Linked DNA regions of Homo sapiens: regions 2 and 3 are each linked to region 1. The links come from fine-mapping of genetic effects on gene expression. A gene starts in region 1. Each other region holds a variant in brackets. All regions are shown on one strand. Distances are between the middles of the regions.

Region 1 (10,691 bases):
TCAGTTGTCTCCTTTTTTTTTTTTTTTTTTGGAGACAGGGTCTCTCTCTGTGGCCCAGGCTGAAGTGCAGTGGTGTGATTACAGCTCATGTAGCCTGGACCTCCCAAGCTCAAGCAATCCTCCTGCCTCTGCCTCCCAAGTAGCTGGGACCACAGGTGGGCAGCACCACACCTGGCTAATTTTTTAAATTTTTTTTTATAGAGACAGGGTCTTACCATTTGCCCCAGCTGGTCTCAAACCCCTGGGCTCAAGCAAGCCTCCTGCCTTGGCCTCCCAAAGTGCTGGGATTACAGGTGTGAGCCACCACACCCGGCCTTATCTCCTAACATTTTGATAGCACAAAATTTTGAAAACCCACTTCTGTGTACGTTATGAAGCATAGAAAATTAAACAGTATGCACCAAAAAAAAATAAATACAAGTTATAATATTTTCTTTCTGTCCCCACACTTAAAAGACCACTCTTCTAAACCAGGCCACAATCATTCAAGCAAAGGCAGGCACTTGGGGCCATCCTCCTCCACTTTCCCCTAGGGAAAACAAACAAAACCAAAGGAAAAACAAAAACAAAAACAGGTTTTAAAGAGTGCATGTTTCCCAGTTCCAGGGAAAATTATAGGCCAGAACACTGTTGTGGCAAACATGCATCCTTACATACTGCAGGGTAAACCAAACATGCAACAAACTAAATTAATAATGATGAAACCAAACTAACAGTAACTTATAATTAAAAAGCCAGAACGGCAGCTGCTGGAAACAGGAGCAGATCCACCATCCTCGATGAAACTCTGATAATCAAATACCCTTTCCCAAAATGGCCAAAATCCTTGCTCACATATTCCAGGTAGGTTCTTTGCTCTGTAGCCAAGATGTGAGTAGCAGCCAGTCTTCCATAAGCTACTGAATTATCTCCTTGGTAAATTCTAATTGTGGGGCTAATTTTTGTTTCCAAATACTAATTTTTTTTTTTTTTTTTTTTTTTTTTTTTAGATGGAGTCTCATTCTGTTGCCCAGGCTGGAGTGCAGTGGTGCGATCTCTGCTCACTGCAAGTTCCGCCTCCCGGGTTCCTGCCATTCTCCTGCCTCAGCCTCCCAAGTAGCTGGGACTACAGGCACCCATCACCATGCCCGGCTAATTTTTTTGTATTTTTTTAGTAGAGATGGGGTTTCACCGTGTTAGCCAGGATGGTCTCGATCTCCTGACCTCGTGATCCACCCACCTCGGCCTCCCAAAGTGCTGGGATTACAGGTGTGAGCCACCATGCCCAATCTTTTTTTTTTTTTTTTGAGGCAGAGTCTTGCTCTGTCGCCCAGGCTGGAGTGCAGTAGCTCCATCTTGGCTCACTGCAGTCTCTGCCTCCTGGGTTGAAGCAATTCTTCTGCCTCAGCCTCCTGAGTAGCTGGGACTGCAGGCATGCGCTGCCATGCCTGGCTAATTTTTGTATTTTTAGTAGAGACAGGGTTTCACCATGTTGGCCAGGATGGTCTTGATCTCCTGACCTCGTGATCTGCCTGCCTCAGCCTCCCAAAGTGCTGGGATTACAGGTGTTAGTCACCACGCCCGGCTTCCAAATACTAAATTTAACTAACACTCCAAAGCTCGCTCAGTAGGGTTCCAGTAAGTGGGGATTCTCATCTTACTTAGAAAGATGAAGTCTGTTGGAAGGCACACCACATGCCTGTAAGAACCCAAGAAAGGGCTGGCAAATGTGGACCACTTCTTGGACTTCATCTAGATCTAGTGGGGAGAGGTCCCCAGCTTGTGGGCAGTGGAGAGTCTTCCAGAAGCCCTTGAATCCTTACCTGCCACCCTGTCTGTTGACCTGATTGTGAAAGTGCAAATACCCTCATGCAGGGACTCCAAGAAACTGCCAACCTTAAAAAAAGTGGGAGGGTTGGTGTATTGGTTCATGCCTATAATCCCAACACTTTGGGAGGCTGGGGCAGGAGGATTGCCTGAGCTCAGGAGTCGGAGACCAGCCTGGGCCACATAGAGAGTCTATGTCTCTACTAAAAATAATACTTTTTAAAAAATAGCCAGTTGGGCCGGGCGCGGTGGCTCACGCCTGTAATCCCAGCACTTTGGGAGGCCGAGGCGGGTGGATCACGAGGTCAGGAGATCAAGACCATCCTGGCTAACACAGTGAAACCCCATCTCTACTAAAAATACAGAAAAAAAAAATTAGCCGGGCGTGTTGGCGGGAGCCTGTAGTCCCAGTTACTCGGGAGGCTCAGGCAGGAGAATGGCGGGAACCCGGGAGGCGGAGCTTGCAGTGAGCCGAGATCGGGCCACTACACTCCAGCCTGGGAGACAGAGCAAGACTCCGTCTCAAAAAAAAAAAAAAAAAAAATAGCCAGGTGTGGTAGCACTGGCCTGTGATTCCGGCTACCCTGGAAGCTGAGGCAGGAGGATCACTTGAGCCCAGGAGATCGAGGCTGCAAGTGAGTCATGATTGTGCCACTGCACTCCAGCCTGGGCAACAGAGTGAGACCCTGTCTCCAAAAAAAAAATCTAGCCCTGTGTTTCCTAACATCGGTGTGAGGCACCCCCATACCTCTCTTCCCACTTTTTTTTAAGACAGGGTCCCGCCCTGTTGTCCAGGTTGGAGTACAGTGGCAGCATGATCATAGCTCACTGAAGCCTAGACCTCTTGGGCTCAAATGCTTTTCCTGAGTAGCTGGGACTACAATGCACACCACCATGCCCGGCTAATTTTATTTTTTGTAGAGACAGGGTCTCACTATGTTTCCCAGTCTGGTCTTGAACTTCTGAGCTCAAAAGATCATCCTGCCTCAGCCTCCCGAGTAGCTAGGACTAGAGGCTCATGCCACCATACCCGGCTAGTTTTTATTTTTAGTAGAGACAAAAACCTCACTTACGTTGCCCAAACTATTCTCAAACTCCTGGACTCAAGCAATCCTCCTGCCTCCGCCTCCAAAAGTGTTGGGATTACAGGTGTGAGCCACTGAATCTGGCCCATAGGTCTTTTTTTTTTTGAGATGGAGTCTCAACTGTTGCAGGGGCTAGTGTGTAGTGGCACAATCTCGGTTCACTGCAACCTCTGCATCCCGGGTTCAAGCGATTCTCCTGCCTCAGCCTCCCGAGTAGCTAGGATTACAGGCGCCAGCCACCATGCCCAGCCTGGCTAATTTTTTGTATTTTTAATAGAGACGGGGTTTCACTATGTTGGCCAGGCTGGTCTTGAACTCCTGAACTCGTGATCCACCCGCCTCAGCCTCCCAAAGTGCTGGGATTACAGGCGTGAGCCATGGCGCCCGGCTTTTTTTTTTTTTTTTTTTTTTTTAAGACAGTCTCGCTGGAGTGCAGTGGCAGAATCTCGGCTCACTGCAACCTCTGCCTCCCGGGTTCAAGCGATTCTTGTGCCTCGACCTACTAGTAGCTGGAATTACAGGTGTGAGCCACCACACCTGGCCAGATCTTTCTTAATACCTCAAAACAACTAGGAATTTGGGCTGGGCATGGTGGCTCACGCCTGTAATCCCAGCACTTTGGGAGGCCAAGGTGGGTGGATCACTTGAGGACAGGAGTTCAAGACCAGCCTGGCCAACATGGCAAAACCCCATCTCCACTAGAAATGCAAAACCTAGCCAGGTGTGGTGGCACACACCTGTAATTCCAGCTACTTGGGAGGCTGAGGCATTTGAACCCAGGAGGCAGAGGTTGCAGTGAGCTGAGACCACGCCACTGCACTACAGCCTGGGCAACAGAGCAAGACTTCGTCTCAAAAAACAAAAAAAAACAGCTAGGTTTGGCTACAAAGGATTCACAGGGTATTGGAGACTGCAGTTGGAACAGAGTTTTCCCAAAAAGCAACAGGGCTTCTGCCTCCTGGGCTTAGCAGATGTGACCTTGGACAAGTTACTAAGCCTTTCTGAGCTTCATTTTTCTCATCTGTAGGATGAGGTGTCTCCAGGTTATTGTGAAGATGTGTATATGCGGTGCTTTATGAACCACAAAGCTGCATGTGGTTGTCAGGTTCCCTCTTCTGGCCTTGTGAGCTGGAGACACACACACACATTTCTCCCCAAACTGTCTCAGCCCCCAGGCACCTACTGCAAGGACTCGGGGATCGTGCAGAGGTGCAAAGGAGTCGTGCCCTCCTCAGTCAGCACATTAGCCTTGGCTCCGAAGGTCAGCAGCAGCCGCACACAGTCAAACTGGGCTCGGGCACAGGCCTCATGCAAGGCAGCGCGACCCCCGACACGGGCATCCAGCTCAGCTCCCTGCCGGATCAGGTGTCGAGCACAGTCTGTGTAGCCTCGGGCTGTAGCGATGGCGAGGGGTGCCGTCTGCTTGGTCTTGGGGGTCAGCACCCAGAACCCTAGGGAGAGCAAATAGTTTTGGGAGGTGGTGTATAAGACAGGGCAGGGCAGGGAGTGGGGATGCTGGTTCCAGCTGACAGCTGACACTGGCCTTCCCTCTGCATGGTTTGCTGAGCACAAACACTGCCAGGCTGTACCTGTGGAAGGGGGCTTATTCAAGTCCTGAAGTGGAAGAATAAATTGGAACAGCCTTTTAATACAGCTTATCAATCTGTAACAAAACATAGTATGTGTCATAAAAAAATTAATTGCTGTATAAAACCACAGGGGCCAACTAAGTAGAGTGACTCCCATTAAGGAAATCTCAGCGTCTTTGAATGGCTAATAGTGTCAAAGGCTTGTTCACCTTGGGGCCTGGGGTGGTGGCTCACACCTGTAATCCTAGCACTTTGGGAGGCCAAGGCGGGATGATCACTTGACCTCAGGAGTTCGAGATGAGCCTGGGCAACATAGTGAGACCTTGTCTCTTTTTTTTTTTTTTTTAGGCAGGGTCTCGCTCTGTCCCCCAGGCTGGAATGCAGTGGCGCTATCTTGGCTCACTGCAAGCTCCGCCTCCCGGGTTTAAGTGATTCTTCTGCCTCAGCTGCTGAGTAGCTGGGATTACAGGTGCGCACCACCATGCCCGGCTAATTTTTCTATTTTTAGTAGAGATGGGGTTTTACCATGTTGGTCAGGCTGGTCTCAAACTTCTGACTTCGTGATCCGCCTGCCTTGGCCTCCCAAAGTGCTGGGATTACAGGCGTGAGCCACTGTGCCCGGTCAACTTTTAATTCTTAAAAGACATACAGACTGCTAACCCTGCCTCATCTCTGTTTAGGAGGGAGCTAGGATAGGTGGTGGAAAGGGCTGCTATAGTCTGTGGTCTGCAGGGAAGGAGGGGCCTAGACTCTCCCCCTTCCCCACCCACTCCCCTTCTTTCTCCCTCCTCTTCTGCCCTCTTCTGGTGCCCCCTACCCTGTTCAGCCGACCAGGCCAGCTGGTTGCTCACAGTCTCCACAATCATGTTGGCGGCCTCTTCATCTTGGAACAGGGCTTGGACCTGCTGCAGGTTGCCGGAGAAGAGGGCTTGGTGGACAGCTGGGTCTCGGCAGGAACGGTGAGGCCTAGTGAGTCGGGCCCGGGGACTTGACGGGCACCTGCGGCTCCGGCACTGCTGGGCAGCCGCCCGCCGCCGGTCCTCCCATTCCAGCCACTCCTGCTGCAGGCGGAGAGAGCGCAGCATGGAGGAGGTGAAGGGGAAGGTCTCTCTTGCCATGGATGGGGCCCAGGGGTTTGGGCAGTGGCACCTGGGCAGAGCCAGGTTCCCTCGACCCGACTACCTCCCTTGCTCTGAGGAGCCACCCTGCCCCCGCCACCGTGAGCCAGAGAAAGCAGCAGCTGAGGCTATAAATAGGTCCTTTGCTGCTCTGGTAAACATGGTTTGCTCAGAGTCATGATCCTGGTGCTGAGAAGCTGCTGGCCCAACCCCCAGCCCAGGGTGAGGGCCAGCCCCTGCCCCTGCCGATACCCTTTGGTTGGTCAGCAGGCCCTCAGCTGAGGCCACCCCCGAACCCCAGCATCTGCATCCACCTTCATCTCTAGAGCGAGCATCTTGGGTTGGCAAGGTCCAGGGTGCGCAAAAAGGTCAGTCATGGAGATGGGCAGGGCTGGGAGGAAGACAAGGTGCCTCCAGCCTCTCTGATGTTGGCTGGAGGGCAGGAGCCACCATTGGCCCACGTGGAGGAGAGAGGGCTGACCTCAGCACAGGAGGTAAGGGGAGGTCAAGGCAGAGTTACTGAGAAGGTGAGCAGCTCTTCCCAGCATCTGCAGTAACAGCAATAACTCTGTACATATGCACAGAGTTTCACGGTGTTTAAATCACATTCATATCCACCTTCACCCAGGGGATCATACTTCCCAGCCCACCCAATAATTAGTAAACTTGGTTTGGACAATAAATGAAATTATCACAGTTGAATGCCCCTGAGATGGGTGGTCTTATCTCTGTTTTACAGATGAGGAATTTAAGGCTTAACAAAGTAATCTACTGGCTCAAGGTCACAGTTTGTGAGAGGCAGAGCCAGGACCCCACATAGATGGTGTGCTTTGGGCCAAGAATGGTGGCTCATGCCTGTAATCCTAGCACTTTGGGAGGCCAAGACAGGAGGATTGCTTGAGCCTAGGAGTTTGAGACAATCCTGGGCAACACAGTGAGACCTATATCTTTTTTTTTTTTTTTTTTTTTTTTGAGACAGAGTCTCACCCTGTCTCCCATGCTGGAGTGCAATGGCACGATCTTGGCTCACTGCAACCTCCGCCTCCCGGGCTCAAACGATTCTCTTGCCTCAGCCTCCTGAGTAGCTGGGATTATAGGCACCCGCCACCATGCCCAGCTAAATTTTGTATTTTTAGTAGAGATTTAATTTAGGGTTTCACCATGTTGGCCAGGCTGGTCTCGAACTCCTGACCTCGTGGTCTGCCCGCCTCGGCCTCCCAAAGTGCTAGGATTATAGGCGTGAGCCACCACCCCCTGCCTCTCCATCTCTTAAAAAAAGAAGAAAAAAAAAAAAAGATGGTACACTTTTTGCCTTCAGCTGCTGCAGCCACCTGGCAGCCTCCCCCATTCTCCAAGCAGGACAGACTAGTCTGTAGAAACTGCCTTCAATCATCCTTTTTTTTTTTTTCTCATGGTGTCACCCAGTCTGGAGTGCAGTGGGGTGATCTCGGCTCACTGAAACCTCCGTTTCCTGGGGTTCAAGTGATTCTCCTGCCTTAGCTGCCTGAGTAGCTGGGATTATAGGTGCATGCCACCATGCCCAGCTGATTTTTGTATTTTTATTTATTATTATTTTTTTTTTGAGATGGAGTCTCGCTCTGTCACCCAGGCTGGAGTGCAGTGGCGCGACCTCGGCTCACTGCAAGCTCCGCCTCCCGGGTTCACGCCATTCTCCTGCCTCAGCCTCCCGAGTAGCTGGGACCACAGGCGCCTGCCACCACACCTGGCTAATTTTTTGTATTTTTAGTAGAGACAAGGTTTCGCCGTATTAGCCAAGAATAGGATGGTTTCGATCTCCTGACCTCGTGATCCGCCCGCCTCGGCCTCCCAAAGTGCTGGGATCACAGGCGTGAGCCACCGCGCCCGGCCGATTTTTGTATTTTTAGTAGTCGGTTTCGCCATGTTGGCCAGGCTGGTCTGAAACTCCTGACTTCAGGCGATCTGCCCGCCTCGGCCCCCCAAAGTGTTGGTATTACAGGCGTGAGCCACAGCTCCCAGCACCTTCAATCATCCTTGATTTATTTTTTTAACCCAGCTGCTAAGGGGGCTCACATGGCCGGCCTGAGGAGAGCCAAGGGGTTGAGCTGGAAACTCTGGGAATGGACCTAAGATGTTTAAGCCACAGACCTGTTCACTCTTAGGAGAAAGCAGCTGTGCTTCCAGGAGCCTCTAGGGGGAGGAATGAAGCCGTGAAACCACACAAGCTGGTGTGCCTGCCAAGCTGGGGAAGGGGAGGGCTCAAAAGCTCTGCTCACCCTGAGCTCACTCAGTGCACAGCGGCCTGCAGGCAGGGCTGGTCTGTCCCCTCTGCATCTGGGGCTCCTCCTGGCCCTTCTCCCGCTGCCTGTCCTGCCTCCTGGCCCTGCAGCAGCACCTTGCCCAGTGATCTTTTATTTCTTCCTCTCCCTAGGCCCTTCCCATAAGCAAGTTCTAGCTCCTGTTCTTACATTTTCAGGGACTGTCTCAAGTTCAGCCCCTCGATGTAATGCCTTAAACCTGGATCAACTCAGTCTTTCACCTGGTGTTTCTTCCTCTGGCCATATCCCTTCTGCTCCGCTGCCGGAATGATCTGTCTAAAATGGTTAATTCCCTTGCTTAAAAACTTCTGCTGCCTTCCAATACCTGTCCTTTCATTTTTTTAAAATAGGGCTCCAAATCCTGGCCTCAAGCAGTCCTCCCAAGTCAGCCTCCTGAATTGCTGGGATTACAGGTGTGAGCCACTGCACCTGGCCTGCCCTTTTCAACTAAGCCCCCAATTCCTTGGTTTGGCCCCATGCCACTCACGTAGGGTAGGCATCCTCATCACGCACGGCTCCCCACAACCGTTCCCTGTCAGGCCATTCCCTTAGCTCAGAATTCCCTCAACACCTTCCTGAGGATCTACCCCTAAGGTCACCTGCTCTGAGAGGTCTCTTCAGCAACCCATTGCCTGACTCTTATAGTTCCAGCCACTGCCCAATCTGCACTCCTGAAGGACTCAGGGGCACGCTGTAAAGCACCTATCTATGCTGTTGATGTGGGTCTGCCATGCTGGATGTGGGCTCCAGAGCAGGCCCTGGCAGTCAGAGCACTTGGCTCATGGCAGGCGGGCCTCTTATGTGTAGTGCATTGAACGAAGGTCCCTGTTCTCTGCCAGAGCAAACATCCATCCACCCGCCCGCCCAAGTGGGTGGCAGCAGCCTGGGCTTTTTCCGGCATTGCCCCTACTCTACTGTTCACCTACTCTCTGCCTGGCTCCAGCCTCTTGGTGGCAGTCCAGGGTGGGGGATCCCAGAGGAGGAATTAGATCATACAAAGCAAAGCCTGGAGGTCCTCAGAGAAAGATGCCTCTATAAATGCAGCCTTGATGAACCCTGTTGGCACCCATTTGGTGTGTTAATTGCCACATCAACGGCCTGGCTGGGCACCCACAGCTGGGTTCCCAGGGTTGAGAATCTGGCAAGGCTGGGTGAGACCAAGAGAGGCCAAGGCAGGTGGGTGTCCCCTTCCTCCCTGAGGCACACAAGAGTCATAGCCTAGCCCCTCCCCTGCCTTCTTGCCACACAGACCTGAAGGAGCTAGGTACCCTAACAGCTTAGTCCCAAGATACCACTGTATTCAGTCCCCTTGTCTGTAGAGTTAGCTTCCTGAGGGCAGAGAAAGGAGGCCTTGACTTCAACCTGGAGGGAACAGGGCCAGGTGATCAGATGCCCAGCCTGCCTTCTGGGATCTCAGAGCCTGTGGGGTAGTGAAGCACACAAGAAGCCAGGATGTGAGCGTGGGATTGATCAGGACTGAGCAGGGGGACCGGGGCTCATGGGTGTCAAGAATGGGGAATAGGCCCAGGGCAGAGGGGAGCTTTTATTTTTTTAGAGACGAAATCTCCCTATGTTGCCCAGGCTGGTCTCAATCTTCTAGGCTCAAGTGATTCTCTCACCTCAGCCTCCCAAGTGGCTGGGACTACAGGTGCATGCTGCCACTCCCAGCTGTGGGGGTTTAGGTGCAGGAAGATCCCAGTGTAGATGGGGAGTTAGCAGGGAGTGGAAGGTGGGAGAGAAGGAAATGTATGGTAGGTTCAGGTAGAAAAACCCAATGGGAATGTGAAGGGACCAGGGTGCAGGGGAATTAGCCCCTTCTTGCCCTGGCCTTGTGGCACAAAAGCCTCTAGAACAGGGCCCTGCTGTAATCAGCAGGTAAGTGAACATGGAGTTCTCAAAGCACTTACTCACTTCAGCCTTAAGACTGGGATCCAGTGGGGCACTGTGGCTCACACCTGTAATCCCAGCACTTTGGGAGGCTGAGGTGGGAAGGATCACTTGAGCCCGGGAGTTCAAGACCAGTCTGGAGAACACAGCAAGACTCCATCTCTACAGAAAAATGTTGTTAATTAGCTAGGCGTGGTGGCACGCACCAGTAGTCTGTTACTTGGGAGGCTGAGATGGGAGGACTGCTTAAGCCTAGGAGATCGAGGCTGCAGTGAGCCATGATCACACCACTGCACTGCACTCCAGTTTGGTGACAGAGTGAGACCATGTCTCTAAAACGACGACAACAACAACAACAAAACTGGAATCCATGGGATCAGCCTCTTTGGGAAAAGGAGATTAACGCTTCCCCCCAGAGGAGTGCCAAGCCCATGCCCATGGAAGGCCTCTGTCTCCTAGCTGCTTAGTGCAGGCTGAGGCTAAGGCAGGAGGGGCTGGCTGTCAAACAGGGCTATTTATTATTTTATTTACTTATTCAAGAGATAGCATCTCACCACCTTGCTCAGGCTGGGCTTGAACTCCTGGGCCCAAGGGATCCTCCCACCTCGGCCTCCCAAAGTGCTGGGATTACAGGCATGAGCCTCCACACCTGGCCCAAACCGGGCTCTTTAACCTGCCTCCTCTTGCCCATGAGTTGGGAGAGTTTTCCCAACTCCTCCTTCCAGAAAGGAAAACAAGGTTGGCAACTTGGTATAATTAGACCTTTTACACCCCACCCATGCCTCTTGTCCACCTCTAGTCCGAAAATTGGTACAGAGAAGTCACAGCAATGAAGAGTTGCTTGGCAACAAAATTTTATTTTATTTTACTTTTTGAGATGGAGTCTCGCTCTGTCACCCAGGCTGGAGG
Region 2 (8,000 bases), 85 kb before region 1:
CCCACTTCCCCAGCCCACTTGCCCCAAGTTCTCCCCCGGGATCCAGGTGGCCCTACCCTCACCAGGCAGGGGCCCACTTTCCTCCACTATGGCTCCCATCTCTGACACCTTGAAAGGGGTGGCCATGTCCTATGCTCAGAGTTGGGGGCTGTTGGTCCCCAGGAGGGCAGACCTGCAAGGCCCTTTTCTGTAGCCACTCTTGATCCCGCCTCGTCATTCCAGAGGCCACCCACTTACATCTACAACGTCCTTGGAGAGGAGGCTCTGATTCTCCTTCCATCCCAGGGTCTCTCTGGTCTGGTCTGGGAAGTCCCAGATGTCTACCCTTGATGTCTACCCCAGTCCCTTGATGTTCGCCCTTGATCCCTCCCACCACTGATAGCTCAGCCTGAACAGCTTACTCAGCCCATGTCCCCTGTACGTCCTGCAGCCACGCTGGAGAGCTGGAGGCCCTGGGGGGTGTGAAGCCTGCAGTCCTGACACGCTCTGGGGATCCTTCACAGCCTCTGCTCCCCCAACACTCCTCACTGGAGACACAGCTCTTCTGTGAGCAGGTGAGTCAGTTACAGGGTCAGGGTCAGGGTCAGGGTGGGGCAAGGAGAGAGCTTTCTCAAACGCCAGCAGGGGTCCTGAAAAACCGACCACAAGCAGGGGACCAGAAGCACTCCTGTGCCCGGGGGGTGCCAGGAGAGTTGGGAAGCGAGAATGGGAAGGGGAGGATGCTCAGGTCTCCCAGGTCAGACTGGCCCGAGGACTCCCGTCACCACCCTCCTTCCCACAGGGAGATGGGGGCACAGAAGGGCACTCACCATCTGGAATTCTGGAAAAGATTCCCCCGGATTCAGAGGCCACGTTGGTGCTAGTGGGTAAGAACAGGCATCTCTACCCTCAGCCCTCCACACCCCTCGTGTCTTGGCTCAGCCTGTCTTTCCCTCAGCCTGGACCCCCGCAGCCCCATCTCTTCAGCACACCCACCCTGGGCTCCTCGGCCTGGCCTGATCTTCTCATCCCCTAACAGGCCGCGCCGACTTCCTGGAGCAGCCGGTGCTGGGCTTCGTGAGGCTGCAGGAGGCAGCGGAGCTGGAGGCGGTGGAGCTGCCGGTGCCTATACGCTTCCTCTTTGTGTTGCTGGGACCTGAGGCCCCCCACATCGATTACACCCAGCTTGGCCGGGCTGCTGCCACCCTCATGTCAGAGAGGGTAAGGAAGGGCCGGAGAGGGCTGGGCTGGGGAAGCTTGGGACCTGCATGGTGGCTGAGGCCTGCTCTCCAACCTGGCCTGGGTTACTTTAGGTTCACTGGTTTGACCCATTCAGCCTAATCCAGCTGCTGCTATCCTACCTGGCGGGGGCAGTCGGGGCGTGCAGTCTGGCCCTGCTCTGGCCTGGTCTCGTCTGGTTGGCTTTGGCCTGGCTTAGTCTAGTCCAGCTCACTATGACCTGGTTCCACCTGGTCAGGTCAGGCTTGGTCGGGCCTAGTCAGCTCTAGTTTCATCTAGTCTGCTTAACCCACCAGGTTAGCTTTAGTTCCTTCTCCTTTCCCCACCCAGGGCCCCCGTCTGTCTCCCCAGAGCTCTTTCTTAGTGGGGAGAGTAGGGGTGGGAGCGGGCAGGAAAAGCAGTTCCTGGCAATGGGAGCTGCTGCCTGAGGGGGTTCTGGTTCCTGGAGGCCCTGGCTGTGGACTCCTGGGTCCTTTCCCTCCGCAGGTCCGGGCAGCTCTGACCCTGTCTCCTGCCCCTAGGTGTTCCGCATAGATGCCTACATGGCTCAGAGCCGAGGGGAGCTGCTGCACTCCCTAGAGGGCTTCCTGGACTGCAGCCTAGTGCTGCCTCCCACCGATGCCCCCTCCGAGCAGGCACTGCTCAGTCTGGTGCCTGTGCAGAGGGAGCTACTTCGAAGGCGCTATCAGTCCAGCCCTGCCAAGCCAGACTCCAGCTTCTACAAGGGCCTAGGTACCTGCCCTTCCCAGCTGAGGCTTTCTGAGCCCCCACCGACCCCCAGACACCTCAGCGTAGCCTCTGTCTCCCATCACATGTTCCCCTCTCATCGCTCCCTTTGCCCACATCTTCCAGACTTCTTCGCCGCCCCATTCCCATCAGACAATCTCCCCTACACCCTCCAGTCCCCTTTCCCCTCACCTCCTCCAGCTACTCCCTCTGACCATGCTCTTATCCTCCACCACAGACTTAAATGGGGGCCCAGATGACCCTCTGCAGCAGACAGGCCAGCTCTTCGGGGGCCTGGTGCGTGATATCCGGCGCCGCTACCCCTATTACCTGAGTGACATCACAGATGCATTCAGCCCCCAGGTCCTGGCTGCCGTCATCTTCATCTACTTTGCTGCACTGTCACCCGCCATCACCTTCGGCGGCCTCCTGGGTCAGTGCCAATACCTGTCTCCCTAACTCTTGCCTCTGACCCTCTGGCCTCTGTCTCAGCCCCAACTTCTGACTCTGTCTGACCCTCCAGACCCCTGCATCAGCCTGACCATGACTTGCTCTATGGGCTCCTGGAAATGATCTCCTGACCTTGATCCCACTGTGACCTCTACCCACAGGAGAAAAGACCCGGAACCAGATGGGAGTGTCGGAGCTGCTGATCTCCACTGCAGTGCAGGGCATTCTCTTCGCCCTGCTGGGGGCTCAGCCCCTGCTTGTGGTCGGCTTCTCAGGACCCCTGCTGGTGTTTGAGGAAGCCTTCTTCTCGGTAGTTCTGTCCTTGCCCCACTGACCCTGTCATGTCCCCCGCACCACCTGCCTGATGCATGGTGCCTTGCCCCAAGACCCTTTGACTGACCGGCTTCTTCTGACCACCCTGCAGTTCTGCGAGACCAACGGTCTAGAGTACATCGTGGGCCGCGTGTGGATCGGCTTCTGGCTCATCCTGCTGGTGGTGTTGGTGGTGGCCTTCGAGGGTAGCTTCCTGGTCCGCTTCATCTCCCGCTATACCCAGGAGATCTTCTCCTTCCTCATTTCCCTCATCTTCATCTATGAGACTTTCTCCAAGCTGATCAAGGTGGGGGCCTATGGGGATGTTAATGCACACGGGAGGTTGTGTATAAGACTGAGACAGTGGCCGGGTGCGAGGGCTCAGGCCTGTAATCTCAGAACTTTGGGAGGCCGAGGCAGGTGGATCACCCGAGATCAGGAGTTCAAGACCAGCCTGACCAACATTGTGAAACTCCATCTCTATTAAAAATACAAAAATCAGCCAGATGTGGTGGCATGCATCTGTAATCCCAGCTACTCAGGAGGCTGAGGCAGGAGAACTGCTTGAACCCGGGAGGTGGAGGTTGCAGTGAGCCGAGATTGTGCCACTACACTCCAGCCTGGGCAACAGAGCAAGAATCCGTCTCAAAAAAAAAAAAAAAAGACTGAGCCATTGTGTCCTCGCACATGTGTCTGTGCAGCATTTGTGTGTCTTTGCTTTCACCTGTGTACATAACCATGTGACTGTGCACATGACTGTGACAACATATGTGTCTGTGTCAACATATGTGTCTATGTCTGTGTAGTCACACATCTGCACACAGGACTGTGCAGCTGTGTTGACTGTGACCACATATGTGTTGGCACCTGCTGCCTGTGGCCAGCACTCTTGCTGAGGCATGAGAGGGTGCCTCTGTGTGCACATGTCCAGTTCATGACCACACATGACGTGAGCAATGGGTAGGTATGGGCATGACACTGAGCATGTGAAAGTACATGCACAGTGAGAGCTGGGGGGACTCTGGAGCCTCTGAAGTCCCCCACTCCCTCCCCTGTGCTTGTCCTCAAGAGCTGCAGGGCTTGTGGATGGAGTGCCCAGCCACCTTGGCTTGGCTCCCATCATCTTAAGCTCTGCTTGCCTTTGTACCTGCATTTTATATGGGAGAAGGGTGAGCCCTATGTGTTGTCCCCTGATTCTGTTGGATGGAGGGTCTTTCTGTGTCCAGGTCTTTTAACCCCTTGTTAGAAACTTCCCTGACCCTTGTTTCCTGACCT[CCAGCCTT/T]CTCATGTCTCCCAGGTCCTGGGTGTACATGTGTGCTCGCACACACACCCATTGCCTTCCATGGCCCTCCCTGCCTAAACCTAGGCTGTCTTCATTCCTGAAAACCAAGCTGTAGAATCCCATTTATCCTCTGTTTCCATGTCAATTGAGGAAGAAGATAGATGGATGGATGGATGAATAGATGGATAATGGATGGACGGATGGATGGATGGATGGATGGTTGGATGGATGGATGATTGATGAATGAGTGGGTGGATGATGGACGGATGAATGGATGGATAAATGGGTTGATAGATGATAGGTAGGTGGATGGATGGGTAGATGGATAATGAATGGATGGATGAATAATCAATGGATGATCAATGGATAATGGATAGATGAATGATGGATGGGTGGATAAATGGATGGATGATGAATTAATAGATGACTGGATGAATGGATAGTAGTGCTGGGTAGAGTTAGCTGGTGGTATTTTCCAGCCCAAGCCAAAGCTGGGAGAGAACAGAATGCCTTGGTTTTCTGCTGCAGATCTTCCAGGACCACCCACTACAGAAGACTTATAACTACAACGTGTTGATGGTGCCCAAACCTCAGGGCCCCCTGCCCAACACAGCCCTCCTCTCCCTTGTGCTCATGGCCGGTACCTTCTTCTTTGCCATGATGCTGCGCAAGTTCAAGAACAGCTCCTATTTCCCTGGCAAGGTCAGCATACCCTCCTCGCCTGTCCTTGCCAACACTGCCCTATCCCAGCCCAAAGCCCCCCCGCTCCAAATTCCTCAGTGCCCTTAGCTTCCCTTCTTTTTCAGATTCCCATTCCCAATTCCAACCTCCCCTGGCCCTATCCTTACCTAGGGTTTCACTCTATGGGCAAGCCCCTCCCACTTTCATGGCATGCCCAGCCTGAGAACTGCTGGGGGAAGAAGAAAGGAGGCAGACATAGCTGAGGTGCAGGACAGGGCATTAGATGCTGATGGATCCCCTGGAAGAGCAGGGCCCCGTGGGTGAATATAGGGCAGGAGGAAGGCAGGAGGTGGGGAGTGACTGGGCACTGACCACTGGTCCTTTCACCTGCCCCCAGCTGCGTCGGGTCATCGGGGACTTCGGGGTCCCCATCTCCATCCTGATCATGGTCCTGGTGGATTTCTTCATTCAGGATACCTACACCCAGGTGACCCCTCCTCCCAGCCCTCAGACCATGATACCCCCCAGGTCCTCATTTCCACCCCCCAGCATGCCCCTTCCCTAGAATAGCTTTCCCCAACCTGAAGCCAGCTGGGACTACCTCTACCCCATCCCTGCCTCCTCTGGGAGTCCCATGTGCTTCTCACAGCCCCAGAGGACCCCTGTGGCCAAAGCAAGGTGCTGGGCCAGGTTGCCACCTTCATTCCTTAACCCAGAGCAGTAGGAAGAAGTATTCTTTGGAGCCAGGCAGATCTAGGCATGAATCCCAGCTCTGCCATCAAATAGCTGTGTGATGTGGGGCAAGCTACATAACCTCTCTGATTCTCTTTCCTCATCTTTAAAGTGGGGAACGAGCAGATGGATGTAAAGGGATTAGTGTAATGATTAGGTACAGAGCAAGTGCTCAATATAAGTAAGTTCCCAAGTGCCTCCAACCTAACTGCCCGACCCCTAGGACCCTGGCTCCTCCTGCTCCCACCCTTCCCCATCCTCCTGCCCTTGGCATTCTTACCTGCTACCCCCTCCCACAGAAACTCTCGGTGCCTGATGGCTTCAAGGTGTCCAACTCCTCAGCCCGGGGCTGGGTCATCCACCCACTGGGCTTGCGTTCCGAGTTTCCCATCTGGATGATGTTTGCCTCCGCCCTGCCTGCTCTGCTGGTCTTCATCCTCATATTCCTGGAGTCTCAGATCACCACGTGAGAGACAGGGTGGGGGCTGGGCCTGGGAGGGTGGGAGGCAGGGACCTTTCCCTGGCATTCTCCCAGGCAGGCAAGAGACCCAGGACTGCAAGCTAGTCCCTGCGGGTGTGTGGCCCTCCCGACTAGCAGGAATAGTGAAAAGCCAGGGGCAGTTCCAGGTTTTGTGGGACCAGAAGTTGTATAATTTGGAGAGCTCTTTTTAAGAAAAAAAAAACGTGGCCGGGCGCGGTGGCTCACGCCCGTAATCCCAACAGTTTGAGAGGCCGAGGCGGGCAGATCACCTGAGGTCAGGAGTTCGAGACCAGCTTGGCTAACATGGTGAAGCCCTGTTTCTACTAAAAATACAAAAAATTAGGCGGGCATGGTGGCACGAGCCTGTAATCTCAGCTACTTGGGAGGCTGAGGCAGGAGAATCGCTTGAACCCGGGAGGCGGAGGTTGCAGTGAGCCGAGATCTCGCCATTGCACTCCAACTTGGGCAACGAGAGTGAAACTCCATCTCAAAAAAAAAAAAAAAAAAAAAGCGCCAGGTGAGGTGGCTCACATCTGTAATCCTAGCACTTTGGGAAGCCAAGACGGGGGGATCACGAGGTCAGTAGTTTGAGACCAGCCTGACTAATATGGTGAAACCCCGTTTCTACTAAAAATACAAAAATTAACCGAGTGTGGTGGCATGTGCCCGTAGTCCCAGCTACTTGGGAGGCTGAAGCAGGAAAATCACTTGAACCCGGGAGGCAGAGGTTGCAGTGAGCCAAAATCGCACCACTGCACTCCAGCCTGGGCGACAGAGCAAGACTCTAGGAAAAAAAAGAAAAAGAAAAAAAAATGCAAAATGACAACTATAAAATTAGGTGCTGGATCTTGGAGGGGCCTGTACAAGCAAAGCTCCCTGAAGCTGAAGCTTCGTTGCCTGCGAATCAGCCTTGAATGTTGTGAAGACATTTCTGCTCTTAAGAGTTTGGATTCTCAAGATGGGGCGGGAGGGAGGGGAGCAAGGAACTCAAAGAGCGAGGGGCACAGAAGACAAAACTGAGCTACAAGGACACCAAGTATGGAGAAGGAAGGAGGGGGTGGAGGAGGCAGGGGAGAACCCTGCTTACCCCTCACCTTCCCCTACCGTAGGCTGATTGTCAGCAAACCTGAGCGCAAGATGGTCAAGGGCTCCGGCTTCCACCTGGACCTGCTGCTGGTAGTAGGCATGGGTGGGGTGGCCGCCCTCTTTGGGATGCCCTGGCTCAGTGCCACCACCGTGCGTTCCGTCACCCATGCCAACGCCCTCACTGTCATGGGCAAAGCCAGCACCCCAGGGGCTGCAGCCCAGATCCAGGAGGTCAAAGAGCAGCGGATCAGTGGACTCCTGGTCGCTGTGCTTGTGGGTGAGTGAAAGCTGGGTCGCGTCTTCACCATCCTCCTGCCCCTCACCCCCGGCCCCTTCCCCTTCCCCTTTCTGTTCGGACCCAGCACCTCCTCCAGCCTCCCCCATCCTGCACCACTTCCCCACATCTCCCCAGCATCCCCTACTCACACGAGGGGATCCTGGAGGAAAGGCCAAGGCACTGGGCTGGGCGTCTGAGCAGGGAGGAAGGGGGCTCCACTCCGAGGCCTTCTCCAGACCAGACCCCACCTTCTGACTTACCCAACAGAAGTCCAGTGAACTGTGGGTTCTAGCCCTGCCCTGCTGCTAACCCAGTATCCCTCCTTGTCTCTGGGTCTCAGTTTCCCTGTCTGCACAGTTGGAGGGTTCAACAGATGTCCCCCAGTTCTCTTCCAGCTCAGCTGCTCCATGACTGATACAAGGGGCGGTGCTCTAGCCATAGTCCAGGGATGTGGGGGAGAAGAAAGAAGGGTCACTGGGGTTGATTTCAGTTCTGGAGCAGCCAAGAGTCGAGCTGGGTTCGGTGTGGGCAGTGCCATGGTTGCAGATGGAGAGGTCAGGGAAAATTCTTAAAGGAGGCAGTTGATGGCATTCTGGGCTGGGGTGAGGAGAAAGGTGTGTGTGTTTGACCTCTGTGACCCTCATTAGGTTAAGGGAGTGGGCTTAAGTCAGGCAGGCAGGGCTTTGACTCCTTGCCAGCTGTGTGGCCTTAGGCAGGTTGTTTACCTCTCTGAGCCTGTTTCCTCATCTGTAAAA
Region 3 (10,691 bases), 34 kb before region 1:
AGGTCAGGCTGCCTGGCGGAGCGCTGTGCCCCCAGGGGGGCTGCCAGGGCCCCCTCTTCCCCTTGGCGGGCCGTGCCACCTCGCCCCTGGCCGCCTGAGCCACGCGGTGCCTGGGCTGGGACGTGGGGCCGGCGCCCAGCAGCCGGAAGGCGGGAAGCTGTCAGCTGAGCGCCGCAGACCAGGCGGGGGCGAGCCCCAGGCGGGAGACATCTGCACCAGCCCATGCTTCTGCCCGCCGGCGGGAGCGCCTGGGCTGCTGCGCGGGGAGCGCGCGCCCCCTGGGGGTGGGTGGAAGGCTGACGCCCGGGCCATCCCCGCAGGCCAAGTACAAGGCCCGAGAGGCGGCGCTCAAGGCTCAGTCGGAGAGGAAGCCCGGCGGGGAGCGCGAGGAACGGGGCAAGCTGCCCGAGTCCCCCAAAAGAGCTGAGGAGATCTGGCAACAGAGCGTTATCGGCGACTACCTGGCCCGCTTCAAGGTGACAGGGGTGGGAAAGGGTAGTACTGCAGCCTCTAGCCCCGGGTGACCCCTCCCACGGCTGATACCCTTATTGGTCCCCAGAATGACCGGGTGAAGGCCTTGAAAGCCATGGAAATGACCTGGAATAACATGGAAAAGAAGGAGAAACTGATGTGGATTAAGAAGGCAGCCGAAGACCAAAAGCGATATGAGGTAGGAATGGGGCTGGGGCCACCCCATTCATTGAAAGCTCGGGAACTCCCCTTTGGTTGGGCAGCTCTGAGCAAGAAGTCCCAGCCTTGGTCTGTGACTCTCAGCAAGTCTCAGCTTCCTTCTCTGAACCTCTGTCTCTCATCAGTAAGGTGGGGGTGACATTGCTAACCTCCAGGCTGACTCGGAGGATGCGAGCAGTTGTGAAAGCACTTGTAAACTGTGGTGCCTGCCTCAGACGTGAGCTGTTAGGAAGTTGCTCACTAGCTACCTGTTTCTCCTCCTCCCTGGCACAGAAAAAGACAGCCAGCTAAGGTGCTGATGGCATGAGGCAGAAGGCAGCAGTATTTTGGGGGTGGGACTGGGGGGTGAGCGTGACCTTTCTCCCTCCAGAGAGAGCTGAGTGAGATGCGGGCACCTCCAGCTGCTACAAATTCTTCCAAGAAGATGAAATTCCAGGGAGAACCCAAGAAGCCTCCCATGTGAGCCTGGGGGTTGGAGTCTGCCCTGGAGGTCGGGGAGGGTCAGGGCTGGATGGCTGCTTTGTTGGGGTCCTGACCCTCCTTCTACCAACCCACCTCCCAGGAACGGTTACCAGAAGTTCTCCCAGGAGCTGCTGTCCAATGGGGAGCTGAACCACCTGCCGCTGAAGGAGCGCATGGTGGAGATCGGCAGTCGCTGGCAGCGCATCTCCCAGAGCCAGAAGGAGCACTACAAAAAGCTGGCCGAGGAGCAGCAAAAGCAGTACAAGGTGCACCTGGACCTCTGGGTTAAGGTGAGAGGGCAAGGGACCCTTGGAAGGAACAGAGAGGCATCAGACTAAGCCAGCACCATCCTAGCCTGGCCCATCCACCCACTTGTGCTGGCTGGTCTCATTCATGATTTCATTCCATGCCCTCGCAATCCTTCAGGATAACGGTCACTATCACCCTTTTATTTTTATTTTTTTTTTTATTTTTTGAGACAGTCTTGCTCTCCTGCCCAGGCTGGAGTACAGTGGTGTAGTCTCGGCTCACTGCAACCTCCACCTCCCAGGTTCAAGCGATTCTCCTTCCACAGCCTCCAGAGTAGCTGGGGCTACAGACATGTACCACCACACCTGGCTAATTTTTGTATTTTTAGTAGAGATGGGCAGGCTGGTCTCGAACTCCTGACCTCATGTGATCCGCCCACCTCGGCCTCCCAAAGCACTGGGACTACAGGCTTGAGCCACCGTCCGCAGCCACTATCACCCTTTTAAAAATAAGGAAACCAAGGCTCAGAGAGGTTAAGTAACTTGCCCAAGGTCACACAGTAAGTAGAAGAATCCAAATCAGACTGCCTTTTCCTCCCCCATCTGGGACCACGGGACCTCTCCTAGACTCCTGGCCTTTGTGCTTCCCCTCTGTGCTTTGGTTGAGTAGTCAGATCTGTAAAGTGGAGAGAATCACCTGTGTCCTTCCCACTCACCAAGGCAGGTTGGCCAAGGACCCAGGAAGACTGTGGGGATTTGCTGTTTCAGGAGTTTGGTGAGCCCCACTGCCTCATCGATGGCTCAAGGGTTTGGTGTTGGGGTGTGGTTGATGATGCCAGGCTGACTCATCACGGGGGCACTTCTTTGGAGTGAGGAAGACTCTGATAGGAGCTTCCATTTGCGAAAAGCAACAGGGAAAATGTGAAAACCAATAGTCTTAGTGGTTTAGAGAAGGACTCTGGGTATCAGAAGCAGAAATACTAGGGTTTGGGCCAGCGCAGTGGCTCACGCCTGTAATCCTAGCACTTTGGGAGCCCAAGGTATGAAGGATCACTTGAGGCCAGGAGTTCAAGACCATCCTGGGCAACATAGTGAGATTGCTGTCTCTACAAAAAATTATAAGGTAGCATGGTGTGGTGGCACATGCCTGTAGTCCCAGCTACTCTGGAGGCTGAGTTGGAAGGATCACTTGAGCCTGGGAAGGTCAAGGCTGCAGTGAGCTGAGATTGTGCCACTGCACTCCAGCCTGGGTGACAGAGCAAGACCCTGTTTCAAAAAAAAAAAAAAAAAAAAAAAAAAAATTAGAGCTGTGTTCTCAGATCCCAGGGGCTCTCTGCAGAGACCCAAAATCTAGGGAGCCTGGGAGGGGTAAGATGGGGTGATGATATATAAATGCTCAGCCCACTGCCTAGCACTGGGCCAGCATGCTCAGTCAGCAGTAGTTGGCTATGTTCCAACCCTTGCCGCTTCTGTCTCCCCCAGAGCCTGTCTCCCCAGGACCGTGCAGCATATAAAGAGTACATCTCCAATGTGAGTCTGGGAGCAGAGCAGCAGTGGGGTAGGGGTGGGGGAATTCAGGGGTGTCGAACTCATGGCTGCCACCTTTGTGTCCCCATCCTGCAGAAACGTAAGAGCATGACCAAGCTGCGAGGCCCAAACCCCAAATCCAGCCGGACTACTCTGCAGTCCAAGTCGGTAAGGAGCCCCTCCCAGATGCAGGGGCGTGGGGCGGGGGGCACTGCCTGGAATGGTTGGGCAGAGACCAGAGACCACTGATGTGCCTCCATCCCTCCAAGGAGTCCGAGGAGGATGATGAAGAGGATGAGGATGACGAGGACGAGGATGAAGAAGAGGAAGATGATGAGAATGGGGACTCCTCTGAAGATGGCGGCGACTCCTCTGAGTCCAGCAGCGAGGACGAGAGCGAGGATGGGGATGAGGTGGGGCAGACAGGGCACAGTGGGAGGGGAGGGGAGTCCTGCCAGGAGGGCCACCTGGTGACTCCACATCCTTTCTCACCCCCCAGAATGAAGAGGATGACGAGGACGAAGACGACGACGAGGATGACGATGAGGATGAAGATAATGAGTCCGAGGGCAGCAGCTCCAGCTCCTCCTCCTCAGGGGACTCCTCAGACTCTGACTCCAACTGAGGCTCAGCCCCACCCCAGGGCAGCCAGGGAGAGCCCAGGAGCTCCCCTCCCCAACTGACCACCTTTGTTTCTCCCCCATGTTCTGTCCCTTGCCCCCCTGGCCTCCCCCACTTTCTTTCTTTCTTTAAAAAAAAAAAAAAATACGGTGGGGGTAGGGGGCTGGAGGAGCCCAGGCCAGGACTCTGCAGCCTCAGAGACATCAGCCCTTGGGGGTCCTCCTCCAGGGACAGCAACTATCAGACTAAGCCAGCACCGGACCAGCCTGGCCCACCCCACCCACTTCTGCACTTGCGGTTCCGGCATGGACAATGGACCGGAGAGTGGGGGTGGGGGGTCCCAAAGAGTTTGATGAGGCCCTCCACACCTGCGGCCCAATCCAAGGTGGGGTGGAAGCTTGGGGAAGACCCATTCCTTCCCAGAGGGGCCTGCCACCTGGACCCCTGCATTGGAACTGGAGGCAGGGAACATGGGGAGGAGGAGGGTCGGTGCCTTCAAGAAAACAGGCACTGCCCTGGTGGCCCTCTCCCCTGCCCCCTGCAGGAAGGAGCTGCCTGGACCCGTTCATGGGGGAGGGGGCAGAAGTGTTTTTTATATATGTGTATATATTTTTTTTTAAGCTCTGAGCTGTCAACGAGACGTTTCCTACCGATCTCGGCTGCCGTCTCTGTTGTCATTTCTGGGAGAGGGAGGGTTTAGGGGTAGATTTGGAACCTTTTAAAAATGGTCTTGATGTATGTGGAAGAGAGTATGTGTATGTGTGTTCCTGTACATAGCATGGGTGCAGCTGTGGATGTGTGCAAAAGAGTGTGAGTGTGTGTGTGTGTGTGTAAAGGGGTCTGTCCTAGAGCCCACATCAGTTTGTTGTGAATCTGGAAAAAGGGTCGGTGAGGGCCGGGAGATGTTGACCCTGGTGGGAGCAGGCTGAGGCTGCCCCGTTCTCCACATCCTCTGTTTTGCCCAGTCTCTGATTCCATTAGGGGGAGTGTGCTGAAGCCATTCTCGGATGCTTCCCAGACCAGGCTCCCTCTGCCAGAGTCACATGCATCCGAGCTGCTGGTCTCCATTGTCCAGCAGGAAGGCGGAAAGGCAGGCAAGATGGTGTGAAGCTTAAAGCTTGTATTTGATGGAAAAGGTCTCCCCTGTTCATCTGAGAGGCCAAGCCTGGCCACCCCAGGCTCAGAACCTGGGCTTCAAGAAATGTGCTGGGAGCTCCTAACTTACACATCCCTCCAGCCTTCCTTGAATCCTCCCACCACCCCCTATTTCCTTTAATTTCTCAGGTCTGCTCCCTCCTCCCCCAACCCCACAGCTGGGCAAGAAGTCTGCAAAAGCTGCATCTGCAGCTGTCTCTAACTCTTCCCAGCCATCTCCCGTATTTTTTGGTACCTTGATTCCTTGACTCTTAATAAGCCAAGCCACCTTATCTCTGTAGTTCTTA[T/C]TTTTTTGTTGACTAAATTTGGGGGGTTCTTTTTTATGGTCATGTCACTGACCTATTAAATTGGGGCTTGGTGCTTTTCCACCTTCCCCCTCTGAATGAAAGCCAAGGAATGGGGGAAGAGCGGGAACTCTGCCGCGGAGGTGGAGCAAGAACGGTGAAGGGCCCTGGTCCCAGAGAGGCTGGTGGGTCCCTCTCCCAAAGGAAGGCAGACAGTCTCTGCTTTGCCTTGGACCTTGGTGCTGGGGGTGGGGAGGCCTGGGGGGGACACTCCCCACTCCCATTCCCCTTCCTTTGTCCTAATCCTGGAATTAAGTACAGGGGTTTATAGGTTCTATTTCTTCCCAAGAGCCCTGCAAAGAACCCCAGTTTCCTATTTGGATGCCCCTACACTGTTGTGTTTCAGTGGAATGTATTTTCATTTAAAAACAACTTTGAATGGGGCACTTTTTCTTTCCTGTTTTAAAAATTGAAAAATTCTTACAGTACAAACAGGACTGTCAGGGTGGGGGTGTTGGTGCTGTAAGAGGTCACTCTTGAGTGCATTTTGGCACTGGGATGGGATGGCTGGGGTGGGAAGACCCCCATCCCCACCCCCAACTTCTTTTCTAATATTTAAGGAGTGTTTTGTAGGATTCAACAACCACCACAACTTGAATTTGTATCATGGGAGGTGGGAGGGAGTGGCTTAGAGGTGTCTGCCTATGCTTAAAGCCAACTGTGGAAGTTTTGTTTTCCCTTTTTTGTATAATAAAGTGAAAAACAAAGGTTTGACTGCTGTCTGGTCACTGGAATCAATGAAGGTTCACAGGGGTGACCCAACAGGTTTGATCTATAAAAATGCTTGAAGCCAATTTGCCTTTTCTTCCTAGAACTATCTTCCTCTTCCCTAAAGATTCCATAGGCAACCTACCTTCACATTGTTCTGTGCTACTGTTCTTGCCCTTTTCTCAATTCCATTTGTTCACCTTGGGTTGTGAGACCACTAAAGATTCTGAGAAGTTGGAGAACAAATGCATTTTCACCCAAAGTACATGGTCTTGGGGAATTGGAGGTGATGAGCTACTAGGGTCAAGGGTTCGCCCTGGGCATGCAAGCCTTCCTAGTGTAGGGCTTATCGTGGGGAGTTGAGGGAGCACGCTCTCACTTTGAGCCTTCAGCTCCATCCCAGGTTAAAGGTTAAGGGTTAAGGATGACTTTCCTAGGACCATCTAGGCCTCTGATGGGAAGCAGGCTGGGCTGGGCTGAGATGACTCACTCTCTGAGATTAAGGGAAGACACCCTTTCCTGCGCAGGCCTTGGCTGGGTTCCTGGAACCTCAAAGGGCTGCAGACCCAGGTCCTGTCGGAGAACTCTCTCCCAGCCCTTGCCCCTATCCTATAGTGGCCAAACTGCTAAAAAGCTTGTTGTGCCTCTTGGCCTCCCACTTACCACCATCCTTTGAGGTTCCTTGCTAAGGTCACCAACATGTTCATTACATCTGGTGAACACTTGTCTTGTCTTTTGCCTTCTTGGTCTACTCTGTTGGTGTCAGCTCTTCCTCATTTTATCCCAGGTGTTCATGTCTCTCCCTTCAACCTCCCATTATCACGCATATGCAACCATTCCGAAAGGTGGTGCCGACAGAGACTGCTCTTCCAAGCTGCAGACCTGTGTAGACACCCTTGCATCCCCTGGGATATCTTGCAGACATCTCATACCTCAAGACCCGAAATGATTACCAAACACTTAGTCGTTCAACCTAGAAAGCAGAGTATTGGCCTTGACTCCTCTCTCCCTTTCACCTCGAGGTTCAATCACCTAGACCTCTCCATTCCACTTCCTAAAGCTGTCTCAAATCTGTCGACCCCTCCCACAGGGTGGCTCCCACAGCTGCCACTCCCATCCTATTTCAGGCCACCATCATTGCTCAACTTCTGCAAAGACCTCCTAAAGCTGGTCTTCCTGCTTCCACTCTCGCCCCCTACAGCCCATTCTTCACATGGCAGCCAAAATTATCTCAGAAATAAATCTGATTATTTCTGTACTGAAAATTTACCATGTCTTACCATGGCCCTACAAGGCTTGGCCCCCGCATTCCTTCTCTTATCTTCTCTCACCCTGCTCTTCCTAACCACTTACAACGATCCAACCAAGTGATCTCTTCTGTTCCTCAAACATGCCTACCTGCGGGGTCTTGGCACCTGTTCTCTCTGCCTAGAATGGCTATTCCTCCAACTCTACACATACCTGATTTTTTTTTTTCATTCTTTAAGCCTCAACTCACATGTCCTCTCACAGAGAAGCCTTTCCCAACCACCTGCTCTAGAGAGGCCTCCTCCATCTTCTTGTTTATGTATTTGTTTATTATCTATCTCCCCAAGTAGAAGACACCTTATCTGCTTGTTCATTACAGTAATCTCAGCACCTGAAACTGCCTGATATACATTTGACAATCAAGAAAGATTTGCTGAGTGGGTGAATAGGTCTGGCCCACAAGGCCCTTGGGGATCTGCTGCCCCCGTTAGCCCTCCCCCGACTCTAGCCACACTGACCATTCATGTCTCGAACATAACATGCTCTCTCCTAGGGCCTATACACATGGTGTTCTCTCTGCCTAGTTAATTCTGGTCTCCACTTAAAAGACCACTTCCTTCCCTGAACTCCTGAGAAAAAAGGTCTCCACACTATACGTTTCTTCAGCAGCCTGAATGCCTTCACACTCAGGCCTTATTTCCTTCACATCAGGCCTTGCTAGGCTGTAAGCTGCGCTAGGACAAGGTTTGTGTGTCTCTCTTGCTTGTTGCTGTAACCCCAGGGCCTCACCCAGAGTCAGGACCAGCTCAGGCCTTAGTGTTTATGAACTGGTGCTAACTGTGGAGACTGGGCACGTGCCCAAAGAGGTCACCACCACAGAGCAGCCCAGGCCAAGCACAGAATGAATAGTACAGTCTAGTTGTAAAGAAGTTTGGTATGAGGATGGCCATGGGTGGGGATATGAGGAAGGATTTAGGTAAACAGGGAGAAGCCAGGAGGATTTTCTGGCCATGGCGCAAATTCCTTAGGGCAGAATGTACTGGGCATATTTAGGTAAGAAACAGATCAGCATCACTGGAGTGAAGAATTCCTGAAAAGGAGGCGGGAGATAAGAGAAAACAAAGGTTGAGGCGATGTTGTTGAAGTTCCTGAAGACCTAGCTTACTTCTCTGTGCCAGACCTGAGTTCAACCACCTTTTGGGTCTCCATCAGCTGATCCCACAGTAACCTCAATATATCCCAGACTGAAGTCATCCTGTGTCCTCCCATGTCCTCCCCTGAGTTCCCCATCCTAGTAAAGGTGTTTTCAAGACCTCCCTCTCCTTTCCTCCACACACCTCAATCAGTAACAAAAACCTACTGCTTTTGCCAGGCCCAGTGGTTTATGCCTGTAATCCCAGCATTTGGGAGGCTGAGGCAGGCGGATCTCCTGAGGTCAGAAGTTCGAGACCAGCCTGGCCAACATGGTGCAACCCTGTCTGTACTAAAAATACAAAACTAAAATTAGCCGAGCGTGGTGGCGTGCGCCAGTAATCCCAGCTATTCAGGAGGCTGAGGCATGAGAATCACTTGAACCCGGGACGCAGAAGTTGCCGTGAGCTGAGATTGCACCTGAGTGACAGAGCAAAATGCTGTCTAAAAAAACAAAACAAAACAAAACAAAAAACCTACTGCTTCTAAATTATTCTCCAGACCATACTCCAGCATGATCCACTAAAAATATAAGTCTGGTGAATGATTCCCCTTGAGGACTCCTCACAGCTTACAGGCTAAAGCCCACAAACTTTTCAACACCTACTTTGCTTTGTCCTGTATTATCCAGCCTGCTCACCTCCTGCTGCTCTGCCACCCACTCCTCTGTTCCAGCTTGATCCATGCTTCTGAAGCTTCCAGTTGGGGATGTCCAATGCCTTCTTGGCCTACCTTCACCTGGTTCATCTCCCTCTATAAGAAGTTTTTCTTTTTCTTCTTTTTTGTTTTGTTTTGAGACGGAGTCTCGCTCAGTTGCCCAGGCTGGAGTGCAGTGGCGCAATCTCAGCTCACTGCAACCTCCGCCTCCCGGGTTCAAGCGATTCTCCTGCCCAAGCCTCCCGAGTAGCTGGATTACTACTATTGCCTAAGCCTCCCGAGTAGCTCCTGGGATTACAGGAGCCCGCCACCACGCCCAGCTAATTTTTGCATTTTTGCAGGCTGGTCTCGAACTCCTGGCCTCCCAAAGTGCTGGGATTACAGGCCTGGGCCACCGCACCCTGCCCAAGAAGCCTTTCTTGACCAACTCTCTTACATCATTTGATGTCTCCTTTTGTCTACCTCTGTTTTCTCTCTGTTGTTTTCCTCACACTGTTTTGCAATTATTATCCTACCTATCTATCCACAAGACAGTGAACTTCTTGAAGAAGCACAACTGTCTTATATCATCTTTTATCCCAGCACCTGGAGCACCGTGAGAATAACAGCTAAGATTTACCAAGCACTTACACAGAGCTAAGAGTTTCACATGCACTGACTTGTTAATCACTACAGCAACGCAAGGAGATAGGACTATCATTATGCCCACTGACAACAGAGGAAACTGAGGCACAGGAAACTCATTTGCTAGGCCCAACGATTTAAATTCAAATCAGACGCCTGATCTGAACTACTCTGGAATATCGCCTCAATAAATGTTTGCTGTTTCTCGGGAGAAATCGGTGAGAAAAAAATAAGTATTTGCTGAAAACTAAAAACCAAAGATGGCTCCAAGTATGTGATTACAGACTATCCTCCTTTTTAATCTTATCTCTTGAGGGGAGAGGGCTGTCACACAACCGTTCCAGGACACCACACACAGAGTAACCGAGATGAAAGCGCCAATCCAGCCATCCACCGCGGCTGGGAAAAGGCCTGTCCCTTCCTAAGGTAAAGAGGGACTGAGAGCGTGAGCACAGGGACACGCTGCACCCAGGGGAACAGCACTGGGTCGGGGGAAGGATCTGGCCAGTGACAAGGAGGCTGTCTGGAGGGGTGGGGGTCCAGCGTGGGTTCCGGAAGCAGGAAAGGCGAGCAGGTGTGGGATCTAAATTAGGACGAGGGGCGGGGAGGGCGCTCCGCGCAGAAGGGCGCAGCTCGGCCTCCGACCTCAGCAGCGGACCCTCATCTCGGCCGCTTGTTGGTCCGCAAGCCTGGAGTGGGCTGAGACCCGCCCAGAAACCGGGAGAACTGAGGCGCGGGCGAGCCCCTTAGGCTCCACAGGCTTTCCGCCCCGAGGTCCTAACTGCGCCCCACTTCAAGTCTGGCCTCTTCACAGAAGTGGCTGCACGCCTCGGGGTAAAGGGGGGAGCGGAGGGTGGCGGGGGAGAGAGCGGGGAGCCCCGAGGGAAGGGCGGGGGAGCCTGGGCCGGAAGGCGTCCCAGGCTCGGCTGGCAGCCGGCGCTCTCTTTCGACGCCACCCGCTGCCCCCGCCCCCGAGCCGGCCGGGACGGCAAAACGTCTCCGCCCCCAGCGCACCGCGCACCTCACCTTGAACGCCGCCCCACCCACCCCCATCTTATTGGTCCTCCCGGGCCGAGGCCTCCCTGCGATTGGTCGGGGAGGTCCGCGAAGGCCCCGCCCATCTCTCCGCCCCCGTCCCCGTCCGCCGGTACTTTGGACGGCGGCGTGGCGCCCCTCCTCCCCTCCCGGTCCCCGCCCCCTGGAGCAAATGCTGCCG

Alleles and levels. Alleles are on the strand shown, and positions count from the first base shown. SD is a standard deviation of normalised expression in the study named.
As copies of T replace CCAGCCTT in region 2, the expression in transverse colon of the gene that starts at base 5,684 in region 1 goes up (moderate effect, 0.52 SD a copy in GTEx).
For the expression in lung of the gene that starts at base 5,684 in region 1, allele C in region 3 goes with a higher level than allele T (large effect, 0.93 SD a copy in GTEx).

What was found.
Region 2: its variant is fine-mapped to the expression of ASB16 in transverse colon (GTEx, PIP 0.92).
Region 3: its variant is fine-mapped to the expression of ASB16 in lung (GTEx, PIP 0.94).

Annotation. Positions count from the first base shown.
Region 1 is chr17:44,165,697-44,176,387 of GRCh38, reverse strand. It overlaps ASB16 (ankyrin repeat and SOCS box containing 16), which reads right to left and starts at 5,684. Exons shown (of 5, transcript NM_080863.5): 1 at 5,298-5,684; 2 at 4,075-4,342. The coding sequence starts at 5,598. ASB16-AS1 (ASB16 antisense RNA 1) reads left to right here. Exons shown (of 3, transcript NR_049730.1): 3 at 1-415.
Region 2 is chr17:44,252,363-44,260,362 of GRCh38, reverse strand. It overlaps SLC4A1 (solute carrier family 4 member 1 (Diego blood group)), which reads left to right. Exons shown (of 20, transcript NM_000342.4): 7 at 431-554; 8 at 782-866; 9 at 1,019-1,200; 10 at 1,740-1,950; 11 at 2,183-2,377; 12 at 2,556-2,704; 13 at 2,819-3,013; 14 at 4,517-4,690; 15 at 5,067-5,156; 16 at 5,701-5,867; 17 at 6,992-7,245. Among named protein-coding and RNA genes, the nearest start is that of SLC4A1, 12 kb to the left of the region's middle. RefSeq lists an enhancer at 2,333-3,289. The variant CCAGCCTT/T (reference allele first, on the strand shown) is at 3,982.
Region 3 is chr17:44,200,103-44,210,793 of GRCh38, reverse strand. It overlaps UBTF (upstream binding transcription factor), which reads left to right. Exons shown (of 21, transcript NM_014233.4): 13 at 1-2; 14 at 321-476; 15 at 560-670; 16 at 1,061-1,149; 17 at 1,253-1,442; 18 at 2,883-2,930; 19 at 3,024-3,095; 20 at 3,197-3,340; 21 at 3,427-5,754. The coding sequence ends at 3,552. The region is part of intron 1 of ATXN7L3-AS1 (ATXN7L3 antisense RNA 1); the gene reads right to left. It overlaps MIR6782 (microRNA 6782), which reads left to right and starts at 2,955; the gene lies at 2,955-3,023. RefSeq lists enhancers at 1-389, 99-393, 1,490-2,689, 3,331-3,831, 9,531-10,068 and 1 more and silencers at 99-393, 1-426, 847-896, 10,262-10,691. The variant T/C (reference allele first, on the strand shown) is at 4,991.